Linked DNA regions of Homo sapiens. The protein of the gene in region 2 interacts with the protein of the main gene of each other region in a pairwise test. Each region holds a gene or a part of one and is shown on either strand. Other genes may lie near its edges.

What was found. Proteins that work in one complex are often made in the same cells at the same time.
Region 1: the proteins of PRKRA (region 2) and ZNF746 interact in a two-hybrid assay, tested with the Homo sapiens proteins (one large-scale study listed by BioGRID and IntAct).
Region 3: the proteins of PRKRA (region 2) and RABEPK interact in a two-hybrid assay, tested with the Homo sapiens proteins (one large-scale study listed by BioGRID and IntAct).

The regions. Positions count from the first base shown.
Region 1 is NC_000007.14:149,491,213-149,495,511, forward strand, and holds part of ZNF746 (zinc finger protein 746), read right to left. Parts: intron 3,292-4,299; coding exon 2,992-3,291; intron 2,904-2,991; coding exon 2,777-2,903; intron 1,761-2,776; coding exon 1,647-1,760; intron 1-1,646.
Region 2 is NC_000002.12:178,443,994-178,448,917, forward strand, and holds part of PRKRA (interferon-inducible double-stranded RNA-dependent protein kinase activator A), read right to left. Parts: intron 3,594-4,924; coding exon 3,512-3,593; coding exon of another isoform or gene 3,463-3,511; intron 1,543-3,462; exon of another isoform or gene 1,433-1,542; intron 508-1,432; coding exon 429-507; intron 1-428. UniProt on the Homo sapiens protein: Activates EIF2AK2/PKR in the absence of double-stranded RNA (dsRNA), leading to phosphorylation of EIF2S1/EFI2-alpha and inhibition of translation and induction of apoptosis.
Region 3 is NC_000009.12:125,216,840-125,221,138, reverse strand, and holds part of RABEPK (rab9 effector protein with kelch motifs), read right to left. Parts: intron 601-4,299; coding exon 439-600; intron 1-438. UniProt on the Homo sapiens protein: Rab9 effector required for endosome to trans-Golgi network (TGN) transport.

The DNA.
Region 1 (4,299 bases), on a different chromosome or scaffold from region 2:
GGAGTTTGTGTCTACTCATCTTGTCTACTGGTGGGTAGAGGCCACGGATGCTGCTGAACATCATACGGTGCAGCTAGAGAGTGTTACAGGGTCTTACCAGCAACCAGCGTATTTCCAGCCCCTCTTTACTCTCATTGAATGATGCTGTGGAAGTGAGGGAAGCCTCCACACATGGTGTAAATACAACGAAACCCACCCACCCAGAACCTCCCACCCAGGCTAGGAAGCTGGGGACGCGCACGGGTTGTAACCCTCTTTTCCAGCCCAATAGTATCTGTTCTCAGCCATCTTTCTGTCCTCTAGTGTTCAGCACTGTCCTTGACGCCTAGAAGATTCTTAAAAATGCATCTGTAGAGCTAAACTGTCAATGTCCCGATGACGACTGGCAAAGCGGCCAGCCCGGAACATGCTTCTGCCCTTAGGAAAGTGCAAATCTGACTGAGATGAGATGACGAACATGGGGGATGCATTTAATTTCACACAAGTGGCGCACAGGAGGGCCTCTGCGGACCACCACCTTTCTCAGTGTCAGACGAAAGGGAAAACCAAGGCAGGTGGGACGGTCAAGGGCGGGTCTTCTGGAGGAATCAGGGGTCGAGCCTTGCAGAGATGTGGTCTCCCTAGTCAAATGACCCAGCAGGTCTTCACTTTAGGAATTTGGTTTTTCTCCTGTGTCCACCTGTCCTTCCCTTAACTTTCAAAGGTGCTGACTGGCTCCAGGGAAATCTGAGACGCTGATATCTGGTAACAAGATTCACCTTAAATAAATGTGTGCTTCTAATAATACCAAACCATAAGGCTGACCAATGTAGACCAAAGTAGCTCTACAACTGCTACTGGTTTAAATTAAGGTTGGTTCTTGGAGGCAAGGCTGACTCTTTGCAAAGCTTTGGATTAATTTTGTTGTCAATATACAGCTGACCTTGAACAACATGGGTTTGAACTATGCAGGCCCACTTATAAATGGATTTTCTTCTGCTTCTGTCACCCCTGAGACAGCTAGACCAACCACTCCTCTTTCTCCTCAGCCTACTCAATCTGAAGAAGACAATGAGGAGGATGACCTTTATGATGCTCCACTTCCACTTAATGAGTAATAAATATATTTTCTCTTCCTTATGATTTTCCTAGTAACATTTTCTTTTCCCTAGCTTATTGTAAGTATCACTATGTAACACACAGAACATACAAAATATGTGTTATTGACTGTTCATAGTATCAATAAGGCTTCTGGTTAATAGGAGACTACTAGCAGTTAACTTTTTAGAGAGTCAAAAGTTATACATAGATTTTTGGCTGCGTGGGACTGGGGGCTGGTGCCCCTGGCCCCTGCGTTAAGGGTCAACTATGCTCCTGCCTTCCCTCTCAGCGTTCTCCTCTCCCTCCCCTCAACCTGTGCCCTGCCTTTGTCTCTTCCTAAAAGATTAGGTTTGCCACCTGTTTCCCTGACAGAAAGTGTTCATTTCTGGAGCATTAGCTGACTAAGTTAGAGATTAAAACTCAACTATAAAAAACTCAAGACATAAAACCTGTAAGTTTCATGTTTCTCCTCGACTCTCTCTGGAAAGATCACACCCTTTCTGGCCTTTCCGTCTCTGTTTCCTGCACAATACCTGATGCCTCCCTGGCCTTCTCCCAGCCCTTACCTGGACTGGGGTCCACAGGAACATCTGGAATCTTGGGGCCAGGGCGGCGCCAGTTGCAGGGCTCCTTCCCTTGTTCAATCTGGGAGAGGACCTCGGGCTTGGAGATGGCGTAGTCTGAGGAAAGACAGAAGGTTAGTTTTTGCCACGTTCCAGTCAAAGCTGGGGACAGTCATCCCGGAAAACCAACAATGGTCTAGAAATGAAATCTCTTGATTGTCACAAAGCAGTAGCTCTCAACCACAGGCAATTTTGCTCCCTGGGGGCATCTGGCAAAGTCTGGAGACAATTCTGGTTGTCATGCCCAGGGCTGGGGGAGAGGTGACTGGCATCTGGAGATGCCCTGAGAGGCCAGGGCTGCTGCTCAACATCCTACAATGCAGAGGATGCCGCCGACACACAGAATCACCTGGTCCCAAATGTCCACAGTGCCGGGGTGAAGAAACTGCCACAGAGCGTGCACGTTAAACAGCAGTGCACTTGTGCTGACGAAACAACCTCACGTCTGCACCTGCTCCTGCCCTCTCTAACAGGTCTCACTGCCCTCGGCTCCGGGGTCACACAGAAACCATTAGGAAGAGAAAACCAGCCCAGGAAGAAACAGAGTCCAGGCCCTTCCTGGGCAGGATTAAACAAGGAGAAGAGCAGTAGCCCCAGGGGCTGAGGGAAGCAAAGTTTTGAGGCATGAAGAAAATGTCTGCTGCAAGCAGCACCGTCTGCCCATGTTCTCCACTGACCTCGAGGCATGTTGCCGTAAGGGCCACGCATGTTTGTAGGAGAAGGCTGAAGGAAAGAGTCTTTCTCAAATGTGAGTCAATTACATACTGGATCTGAGAGCAGATGGGGCCTTCCCCGCTCCAAGTCAGCAAGAACAGAAAGGTCCACATCCCGGGCCTGCGTAGGAGAGAAGCCACCGCCGTTCCCAGACTGGCATTCTGGGAAACTCAACACAGGGAGAAGGGAGCTTTTAACTCCATCACCCAGGGCTCATCCTTCACAAAAGGTAACAACTTGCAAGGTCAACAATGTTTCTGGTGATTTATATAACACTGACATGAAAACAACTATGTGGAGGGAGAATTCTGAGGACTTGCAAAATCCCATTTAACAGAGAAATGAGTGTCAGGCCTTACCCAGGGAGACCAGCGTCTCGTAGTTGCCCCTCATCACGTGCTTGTAGAGCTCCTTCTGCCAGTCCTCCAGCTTGCCCCACTCCTGCTCGGAGAAATACACGGCCACATCATCAAAGGTCACGGGCACCTGGAACCACAAGTGTCACACTCGCTCACCCACACGCTCACGGGTTTGGCCGCTTGGGCTCCCACACCCCAAGGCGTCCCAGGGCTACCTTAGGGGACTCCCCCTTGCTGCCCGGGGGCAGCCGCAGGATCCAGAAGTTCCTGTTGCGCAGCAGGTTCTCCACGTTCTCCAGCCGCCTCTGCAGCAGCCCGTACTCCTGCAGCAGGGTCCCCAGCACGGCCCACTTGCCCTCCAGCTGGTTCCCGAACTCCACGGCTGTCTTCTCGCAATCAGCCAGCTTCTTCTCGGCCATCCCGGTTCGACCTTCTAGGGAAAGCAGGCGAGCAGCCTGCGATTCAATCTTCCTCTCCATGGCCTGAATCGTGGCTGCCATCGTCCACGGAGAAATCTTTCAGAAACAAAAGAGAAACTGGCATCACTCATTCCATCCACTGTCTTCATTGAGCCCCTCTCTCCCTAGGCACGGGGGAGTTGGGCTGGGAGTCCATATGTGTGGACAAGTGGGGCTATCCTATACCACATGCCAGATCTCAGGTTGGCCATCACCTGCTTGGGTATGTTAGGTCTATGTCTGGGTGGGTGCCTTTACTCCAGGCCTCTGCAGCACAATGCAGACCCTTATCACGGTGCTTATCACCCTACACAATAATTTCCTACCCACACCTACACTGTGGGCTCCCTGAACATGGTATTGCATCTTTTCATACCACTGTCCTTGACACATGGCAGGTACCCAGTGCAATTTTGTTACGTAAACAGTGACTTAGCATTGCTGGGCATTTTAGTGGAGAAATGGTAAACTGCAGATTTACTAGAGCGCAGCCTGCACCTCCCCTCATGATTACACAGGAACTGTCTACTGATGATGACCCAGCAAAAAAAACAGCTGGTTCACTGAAACGGCACAAACAAGAGTATTGCTCAATTTCTTTTTTCTTTTTTTGTTTTTTAAAGCATCTCATGTCCCCTTTTAACAAACATAAAAATCTAATGGCCAGTTCCTCTTCCCCCAGGACAGTCTCATTTTGTCACCTTCCCATCTGCCCCTCCCCCACAAGCTAAAATCCCCATGACTGCAAATCTCCATCAGTCCAGAGTTAGGCTTTTTGACACTGCCTGAGCCCTACAAGATTCTTTCTCTTTCCCAATTCCCACCCCCTCAAGGTAAAAATGACGGCCTCCGACATTTTTGTAGCTGTACCAGGAGCAGTGACATACCCTGCAGTCTGGTGAGGAAAGTACATATATGCCACAGTTAGACTTGTATATGGACAGCAACCATCTTAATTAGAGACGGGGGCCTTCCCTGTCATTGGAAATGTTCACATGGCGTATCAGTGACCGGCAGCTGGGACAAGGAAGAATGGGCACATTTTGCGGTGGGTAGGGAGCTGGA
Region 2 (4,924 bases):
GTGTGTATAGATAAAATTTTTTTTTTTTGGTAGAATAAGCAAATAGACTCCTTTTCTTCAGTTAGGTTCACTGATTTGATTTAGGCTCTCTATAAAGTCTTCTGTCTCAACAGAAGTAGAAAGAGATTTGTCACAAGAGTAGCAAGAACTATTCTTAAAGTATAAAACACTTTACCCATGTGCACTGAGGGCCTGTTGATCTTAAATGAGAATTCTATAAGCCAAAGGCAAATACTGTATATGAAAGAAAACCCAGAACATAAATAGGAAAATAATTTCAAGTTAGCTCTGTTAATCTAATGATCGTAAGTTGGAAAACAAAATATATCACTATCTTGTCTTTAAAATATTAATTCCTTGTGTTAGCCCCTCTGACATTACAAACTTATTATATATTTCATCAGTAGGCAAAGAACTGTACAACTTACCTGTAATGAACCAATAGGATTAAGCTGGTTCTTTGGTTGCTTGGAAGGGTCAGGCATTAAGGGGTCAGGAACTGCAAAGCTAAATATTTTTTAAAAGTGTTATAAAACAAAATAATTTCCCCCGAATTATGAAATAAATGACAAGCATTTTCTAATTAACTCTCTATGTCTTTGCTCTTGTCATTCCTTCTACATGGAATGCCCTTTTCTCAGACCTCTTCTATGGGAATCTGATCGGTCATCCAAGATATATCTCAAATGTCACTTCCTCCAAGAAGCCTATCCTTTTACCCCAGTGGTTTATAATCTCTCCCTTCTTTGAAACATTATAACACATGGTTTAATCCTTTCTTGAAATTGTTTTACCATAAATTATATACTCTTACAAATACATATAATTTGTCCATCCTTCACCACACCTCTCCCCTGTTCAGACAGTAAGCTCCTTGAGGTAGGGCCTATGTATCACTTACCTACATAAGCTTTGTGGTGTTTTGTACATAATAGGCATGCCATAAAAATGTATTTAAAGAATACTCTGTTACAACTATACAAAAAACAGAAGAGTAACAATGATCCAGAAAATTTAGCCTGGCAATGTGAATAATACAGATTATGTGTAAATACTGTTTTTTCATCCACAGAACTATGAAGAGAGATCTGTTTGATCTATCATCTGCTCAGTGCTGGGATAATCCTCTAAGATTTACATGTATCCTGCAGAAAATAGATGGCTTAGATGAATTTGGTTTTAGCAAGTGGGGATTATGATTAGGGAAAAAGAGAACAACCTCTTCTAGGGAGTCTGGAATTACTAGTTACTTAGCAGGTCAGTACTTAAAACTGAATAAGCGGCATTTCAAGGTTAGTACCACCTAGGCAACTGGAGTCATTTTTCCATGACAAATGAGGTTTAGTTATTGCCACTTCCTCAAGGTTTTTTTTTTCCAACTGTGAGAATTTCAAGCTTTACATAGGCTGATGAGATATGAGTATTCACTTACAATGCTGCATGCCGAAGCTACCCAAATAATTGTGATGGAGAAGTGAGAAAGTCTCTGTATTAAGTCAGGCCACTTTAGGCCTGATTACAGCTTAGTAATTCCCATTTTATCTGTCAAGAAGCACAAATATAGTAAAGTTTGTTAGCTTTTTTTGCTGACAAAGTGCCAAGATGCAGAAAGGACACTCCATACCCCTCATTTCTACAAATGTACTTAATGGTTGGGTTCACCTTCAGGCTATACAGAAACAGCATGGCCATCACCAGTGGGGGAGAACCCAATACCTGCCATGTCATTTGGCATGTCTTTTTTTTGTTTGTTTGGAGACAGAGTCTTGCTCTGTCGCCCAGGCTGGAGTGCAATGGCGCGATCCCAGCTCACTGCAACCACTGCCTACTGGGTCCAAGGAATTCTCGTGTCTCAGCCTCCCAAGCAGCTGGGATTACAGGAGCGTGCCACCACACTCGGCTAATTTTTTGTATTTTTAGTAGAGACGAGGTTTCACCATGTTGGCCAGGCTGGTCTCGAACTCCTGACTCAAGTGATCTGCCCACCTTGGCCTCCCAAAGTGCTGGGATTACAGGTGTGAGCCACCATGCCTGGCCTTGTTTTTCTTTGAGGCAGGGTTTCACAGGCTGGAGTGCAGGGGCACAATCTTAGCTTACTGCAATCTCCGCCTCCCGGGTTCAAGCGATTTTTGTGCCTCAGCCACCCAAGTAGCTGGGATTACAGGCGCCTGCCACCATGCCTGGCTAATTTTTGTATTTTTAGTAGAGACAGGGTTTTGCCATGTTGGCCAGGCTGGTCTTGAACTCCTGGCCTCAAGTGATCCACCCACCTCAGCCTCCCAAAGTGCTGGGATTACAGGCGTGAGCCACCCCGCCCAGCCTGGCATAGATCAATTATAATGCATGACCCTAGAGAATCAAGCATCATCTTGTGAAATGCAAGGCTTGTCTTGGGCAGCTGCTTATCTAGAGGGTTGCCATGTCACTGGTTAGTTCTAAACTACCCAAACGGTTTAGAATGATTTACAAAAAGAGAGGAATACTACATGAGAACCTAACTACACCCCTAATCCAAAAGCCTTTCTATGACTAGGGAACAAAAAACCCATCCCAAATTCCCTGGGTCTCTACTGTCAACTATAAGCTGATTACACAGATCGTACTTCAGGCATATGTAAGTGTATGCACAAGAAGAACTTGAAAGCATGCCAAGCTCCAGAGTGCACCCAGTGGACACTACTTTAATATGTGAGATGCTCCAGGACCAATATTCTATCTAGAAACACCTAAAGTAGTAAAAAATCTATCCCAGCACTTTGGGAGGCCGAGGCTGGCGGATCACGAGGTCAGGAGATCGAGACCATCCCGGCTAAAACGGTGAAACCCCGTCTCTACTAAAAATACAAAAAATTAGCTGGGCGTAGTGGCGGGCGCCTGTAGTCCCAGCTACTTGGGAGGCTGAGGCAGGAGAATGGCGTGAACCCGGGAGGCGGAGCTTGCAGTGAGCCGAGATCCCGCCACTGCACTCCAGACTGGGCGACAGAGCGAGACTCCGTCTCAAAAAAAAAAAAAAAAAAAAAAAAATCTTACTTTAGAAAGATATGTCAAGAATTAATATCCCACTTAACATTCTCTTCTTTTGGTATACATTATATAATAAAAGAAAACCTCTGCCTGCTTCTTCAAAATTAGAATTCCCAAAAGAGTACTTTTAGTGGATCTTTCTCCATCTCACACTTTGTTTTCTTCAATGTAGAAATAATCAAAGTCTAAATACAAAATGTTAATATTAATATTTGCAAGAAGCACTGATTTTCTACTGTTGTATCCCATTAAAAAAAAAAAAACAGTAAAGCCTAGTTCATGAGCACCTTCATTTAATAGCTAATTGCTGGATTTGATTGGATAAAGTTTTCTTTAATGGATGATAAGTTTTCATAAGGAAATAGAATTTGAGAGGTAGGATGCTAACAACTGTTCACTTTGTTGCTTTTGTAAGCATGTTCAAATTTTTAATCTTACCTCAGCCATGATATTTTTGAGCTGCTGAATACAAAGAAATTTAGCTCACCAAATACTTGCATTGGCTTTCAAAATGTTTATGGCAGCCTCTGCAGCTCTATGTTTCGCCAGCTTCTTACTTGTACCTTCACCTGAATTAAGATTTAAAAAAAGAAGTCTTTATCTCCCACAAAAATGTGCAGCTTACAAAGATGTTTTCAATACACAAAACAAAGTCACTATAGATTTTACATACACATACTAGGTAATAAAAATATGTACGTTATATACTGTACATAAAAATATGTACATGTTATATACTACATGGTTATATACTGTAATAAAATATTCACCATGTGAAAAAATTTTAAAAAATAACTTTTTAAAGTTCTATATAATTCTATGCATACCTGCATAAAAATCCTTATTTCTACATTATATATGTTTATTATATAACATGGTAATAAAGTAGACCGTGTCACACCTCTGAAGAAATGCAGATTAGTATTTTACTCTTCCTTTATTCCTGGAGGGGAAATTCTTCTGCAGCAAGAAGTTTCTTTTAAAGGAACCATTTACAGCAGAATTGTTTGATAGCAAAATGTGCATAATTTTATTCTGACAGCCTGTCCTATAACGTATCAAACTGCTTTGCTAGGCTGAGCAGTCATGATTATGTGTTGGGTACAACAGGAAAGAGTTTTATGGAATAAGGTGACAGCTTGTTATGTATCTTCTGGACGGTCTGTATCTTCTGCATGGGTAGCTAAGTTGGGACTGGGGATAAGACTGATGTCTAATTTCAGTAAGCAATCACAATGGCAAATGATAAATTCCATCTTTTTCCTTTTAAGTTCAAACTCCCATACCCTCATGGAATAAGTTTCAAGTGTGGCCTTCAAGTGTGGCCCTCAAGTGTAAGAAGACACAGAAACCATATATTTATCTGCTAACACAGGTATTAGGGATATAGCATACAGGGTCCCTGCCCTCAAGAGCCAACAGAGTAGTGTGGGATTTTTGTCTGTTAATAGGCACCTGAAGTATGGAATGGGATATGTTACAACAAGCCTAAGTGCAGGCTGTAGCGGAGGTTGCAGTGAGCCAAGATCATGCCACTGCACTCTAGCCTGGGTGACAGAGTGAGACCCTGTCTCAAAAAAAAAAGAATGAACACTGGTTGTAATGTGACAAAAGGACATCACAAGACTAGAAGGTAAACGTGTAGCTACAAGACTGCAGCTACAATCCAAGTGAGAGATGATGGTGGCCTAGGCAGTAGCAATGGCCAGAAGAGAGAAGCCGACAGATTCAATGGATAGTTAGTGGATTATTAAACGCCAATGGATAGAGTTTAATAACAGACTGGACAAGAGGGAGAAAGACGGGAAGTAGTTAGGAAGACAAAAGCCTACATTTCTACTGAACTAGGTGATTGTGGAGCCTTTACATAGAAAGGGAATGCAAGAAGAATGGGTTTGAG
Region 3 (4,299 bases), on a different chromosome or scaffold from region 2:
GCCCAGGCTGAGTGCAGTGGCCCAATCTTGGCTCACTGAAACTTCCTCCTCCTGGGTTTAAGCGATTCTCCTGCCTCAGCCTCCTGAGTAACTGGGATTACAGGTGCATACCATCATGCCCGGATAATTTTTGTGTTTTTAGTAGAGAAAAGGTATGTTGGCCAGGCTGTTCTCGAACTCCTGACCTTAAGCGGTCCACCTGCCTCAGCCTTCCAAAGCTCTGGGATTACAGGTGTGAGCCACCATGCCAGGCCTCACTATCCCTTTTTAAATGCCAATTTTGCTGTGGGAAAAAGATATCAGCTAAGAGATATAACAAAGAAGTCTAGAAGTGAGACACTTAGTCAGGCTTTCCTTTTCTAACTTCTGCTTCCTATATTAGGTAATGTGTAAACTGGGATGGCCCTGACCAGCCCCAAGGTGCCCACCAGTCCATACTTGCGTCAAACACATGCAGCTTCGTGTCCTGCACGGGCTGGGCACCTCTCTCTCCGCCCCCAAAGACATATAGCTGGTTTCCAATGGCTGCCGATGATGTGTGGAATGTTCTTGGGGATGGTGGGGGGCTGGTCACTTCTGGCGTGGTCCACGTCCTGGTTTCTGGGCCAGAGAGAATGCAGGCACTTAAAATATCCAGGTAGAGGGGCTTCTGACCTTGACTCTGGGGCTGAGTGAAGTCAGTTTCCAAACTCCAATCCCCAGGGGGGCCAGCATAGTTTTGGGCAGGGATCTCATACTCACAAACATCAAGGAAGAATGAAGATGATACTTAGGATTTGCCAAGACAGTCCAAAATCCCCAAGATTTAAAAGCTGTAAGCACAAGAATGGAGTCAGGCTGGGTGCAGTGTGGCTCATGCCTGTAATCCCAGCACTTTGGGAGGCCAAGGCGGGCGGATCACTTGAGGTCAGGAGTTCGAAACCAGCCTGGCCAACATGGGGTAAAACCCCATCTCTACTAAAAATCTGAAAAATTAGCCGGGTATGGTGGTGGGGACCTGTAATCCCAGCTCCTCAGGAGGTTGAGGCAGGAGAATCGCTTGAACCCAGGAGGTGAAGGTTGCAGTGAGCTGAGATTGCACCACTGCACTCCAGCCTGGGTGACAGAGCAAGGCTCCATATTAAAAAAAAAGAAGAAAAAAAAGAGGTCAATTTGTTTTGGAGGCCTTCAAATATCCTCTCTGAACCCTCTTCTACTTTGCTCACTATCGCTCCCCCTAACATCTGCTAACATTCATTCCCACTAGATGCCAGAGTCCAGGTGTGCCAGATTTCCCAGAAAATGTGGCCAATAAAAGAAAGTAGGCAGGCCATGTGCAGCAGCTAACACCTGTAACCTCAGCAGTTTGGGAAATCGAGGTAGGAGGATTGCTTGAGCCCAGGAGTTTGTGACCAGACTGGGAAACAAAGCAATATCCTGTCTCTACAAAAAATCAGCCAGGGGTGCAGTGGCTCACGCTTGTAATCCCAGCACTTTGGGAGACCAAGGTGGGTGGATCACTTGAGGGTAGGAGTTCTAGACCAGCCTGGCCAACATGGTGAAATCCCATCTCTACTAAAAATAAATAAATAAATAAATAAAGCCAGGTGTCGTGGTGGGGACCTATAATCCCAGCTACTCAGGAGGCTGAGACAGGAGAATCACTTGAACCAGGAGGCGGAGGATGCAGTGAGCTGAGATCATGCCACTGCACTCCAGCCTGGTTGACAAAGCGAGACTTCATCTTAAAAAATAATAATAATAAAATAAAATAAATTAAAAATTAAAAAAAATTAGGCTGAGCACAGTGGCTGTAAGGCCTGTAACCCTAGCACTTTGGGAAGCCAAGGCAGGAGGATTGCTTGAGCCCAGGAGTTTGAGGCTGCAATGAACTATGATCGTGCCATTGCACTCTAGCCTGGGTAAAAGAGTAAGACCATATCTTGAAAAAAAAAAAAAAGAAAGAAAGAAATGAAAAAAAAAAAAAGACAATACTATTACATTTCAGTAGCAGTAATAACAGTCCCTACTAAACAGTAAATGCTAAACAAATATTAATTTCCGCATTTTACAGGTAAGAGAATTGAAGTAGGGATGGATTAAGTAACTTTTTAAAAGAGACATGGCTAGCCAGGCTCGGTGGCTCATGCCTGTAATCCCAACACTTTAGCAGGCTGGGGCAGGTGGATTGCTTGAGCCCAGGAGTTTGAGACCAGCCTGGGCAACATGGCAAAACCCTGTCTCTACAAAAAAATACAAAAAAAAATTAGTCGGGTGTGGTGGCGTATGCCTATAGTCCCAGCTACCTGAGAAGCTTAGGTGGGAGGATATACTGAGCCTGCAGCGGTTGAGGTTGCAGTGAGTCAAGATCACACCACTGCAACTCCAGCCTGGGTTACAGAATAAGGCAAAGAAAGAGAGAGAGAAAGAGAGAGAGAGAGAGACAGATAAAGTGACATGCCTAAGAAATGGCTGAGTTGGAATTTAAACTCTTTCAGTAACACCAAGATCTTTCTAATTCCCACTCCTCTGACTGGAGAATAAAATTTCACCACCTAGATAGATGTATAGAAGCTTATTTCTTTTAAGGATGAACCTGGGTTTTATAGAAGCAGATGCATTAATTGAGCACCCTCAATGGGCAGCATCATTGCCCTGGGCACTGCCATCCCTGGTGTCTTCACTCAAGCTTGGGAAGTGAGCGGAAGTATCTCTACTTTTAGATGAGGAAACTGAAGCTCTGCACATTTAAATCCTTTCCTGCAGGTTATAGCATATGTGCGTAGCAGAGCAGGAGTTTGAACTCAGTTCTTTTTTTTTTTTTTTTTTTTTTTTTTTGAGACGGAGTCTCGCTGTGGCTCCCAGCCCAGAGTGCAGTGGCGCGATCTCGGCTCACTTTGCAAGCTCCGCCTCCCGGGTTCACGCCATTCTCCTGCTTCAGCCTCCCGAGCAGCTGGGACTACAGGCATCCGCCACCATGCCCGGCTAATTTTTTGTATTTTTTTTTTTTTTAGTAGAGACGGAGTTTCACCGTGTTAGCCAGGATGGTCTCGAGCTCCTGACCTCCTGATCTGCCCGCCTCGGCCTCCCAAAGTGCTGAGATTACAGGCGTGAGCTACCGCGCCGGGCCTGAACTCAGTTCTATCAGAGTCCCACACTTGCTCTACCATAACACACCAAGAAATTCTGTCTTTTGTAAAAGGTCTACATCCAATATATAAAATGCTACAGGAAACATCTGTAATATGTGTGGGACTCAAATGGGGACCTGGAGACTGAAAAAGTCTCAGCCTATATCCAAAGCAAAATGTAGCTGTCTCTATAGTTACAGATGTTGGAGAGCTTTTGGATCTTAGAGGGAGCTAGAAAGGTATACATGTCACCTCCAGGCCCAGAAGACCCTAGGGCTGTATTCCTGCCAACTCAAACACCAGCACAAAGAATCACAAAGGAGTCCTGAGCATTTGAGGGACTTGCCTTGGTAACAAATGCAACTAAGTACATATTTCATATTTCTTGGGCATGATGTCAAATTATATTTTCTAGGAGAGAAAAGGGATATGATAGAAAATCACCCTCTTTAATATAAAAATTAGCTGGGCATGGTGGCATGTGCCTGTAATCCCAGCTACTCGAGAGGCTGAGGCTGGAGAATCATTTGAACCCAAGAGGTGGAGGATGCAGTGAGCTGAGATTGCGCCACTGCACTCCAGCCTTGGCAACACAGTGAGACACTGTCTCAAAAATAAAAATAAATAAATAAATAAATAAAATAAAATCACCCTCTTTGACAGCTTTCCAAATTCTCACTTTATTTTATTTCAATGGATACCATTGTTGAAAATCAAAAGGCCAGGGTTCCAGAACTGATTTCCCTTTGCCAAACCTTAACTACATCAACTACCACAACAATTACTGAGCATTAATTATGTGCCAGATACTGAGTTTATTTAAATCCTTGACAAATTAACAAGGTAGAAACTATTACTATCCAATGTGACAGAAAACAGAGGCAGAGAGAGGTTAAATCACTAGTCCAAGGTCATAGTTAGTGCATAGCAAAACAGAGACCCTCATCTGTGCCCTTAAGCACCATATTATACTGCTAGTCCTCCAAGCAAATTGGCTTCACAATTAGCCAAATGGTCTGCCAAGTGTCTACTCTATCACTTTCTTCTTTTTTTTTTTTTTTTGAGACGGTGTCTCACTCTGTCACCCAGGCTGGAGTGCAGTGGCGCGATCTCGGCTCACTGCAACCTCCACCTCCCAGGTTCAAGCGATTCTCCTGCCTCAGCCTCCCAAGTAGCTGGGACCACAGGC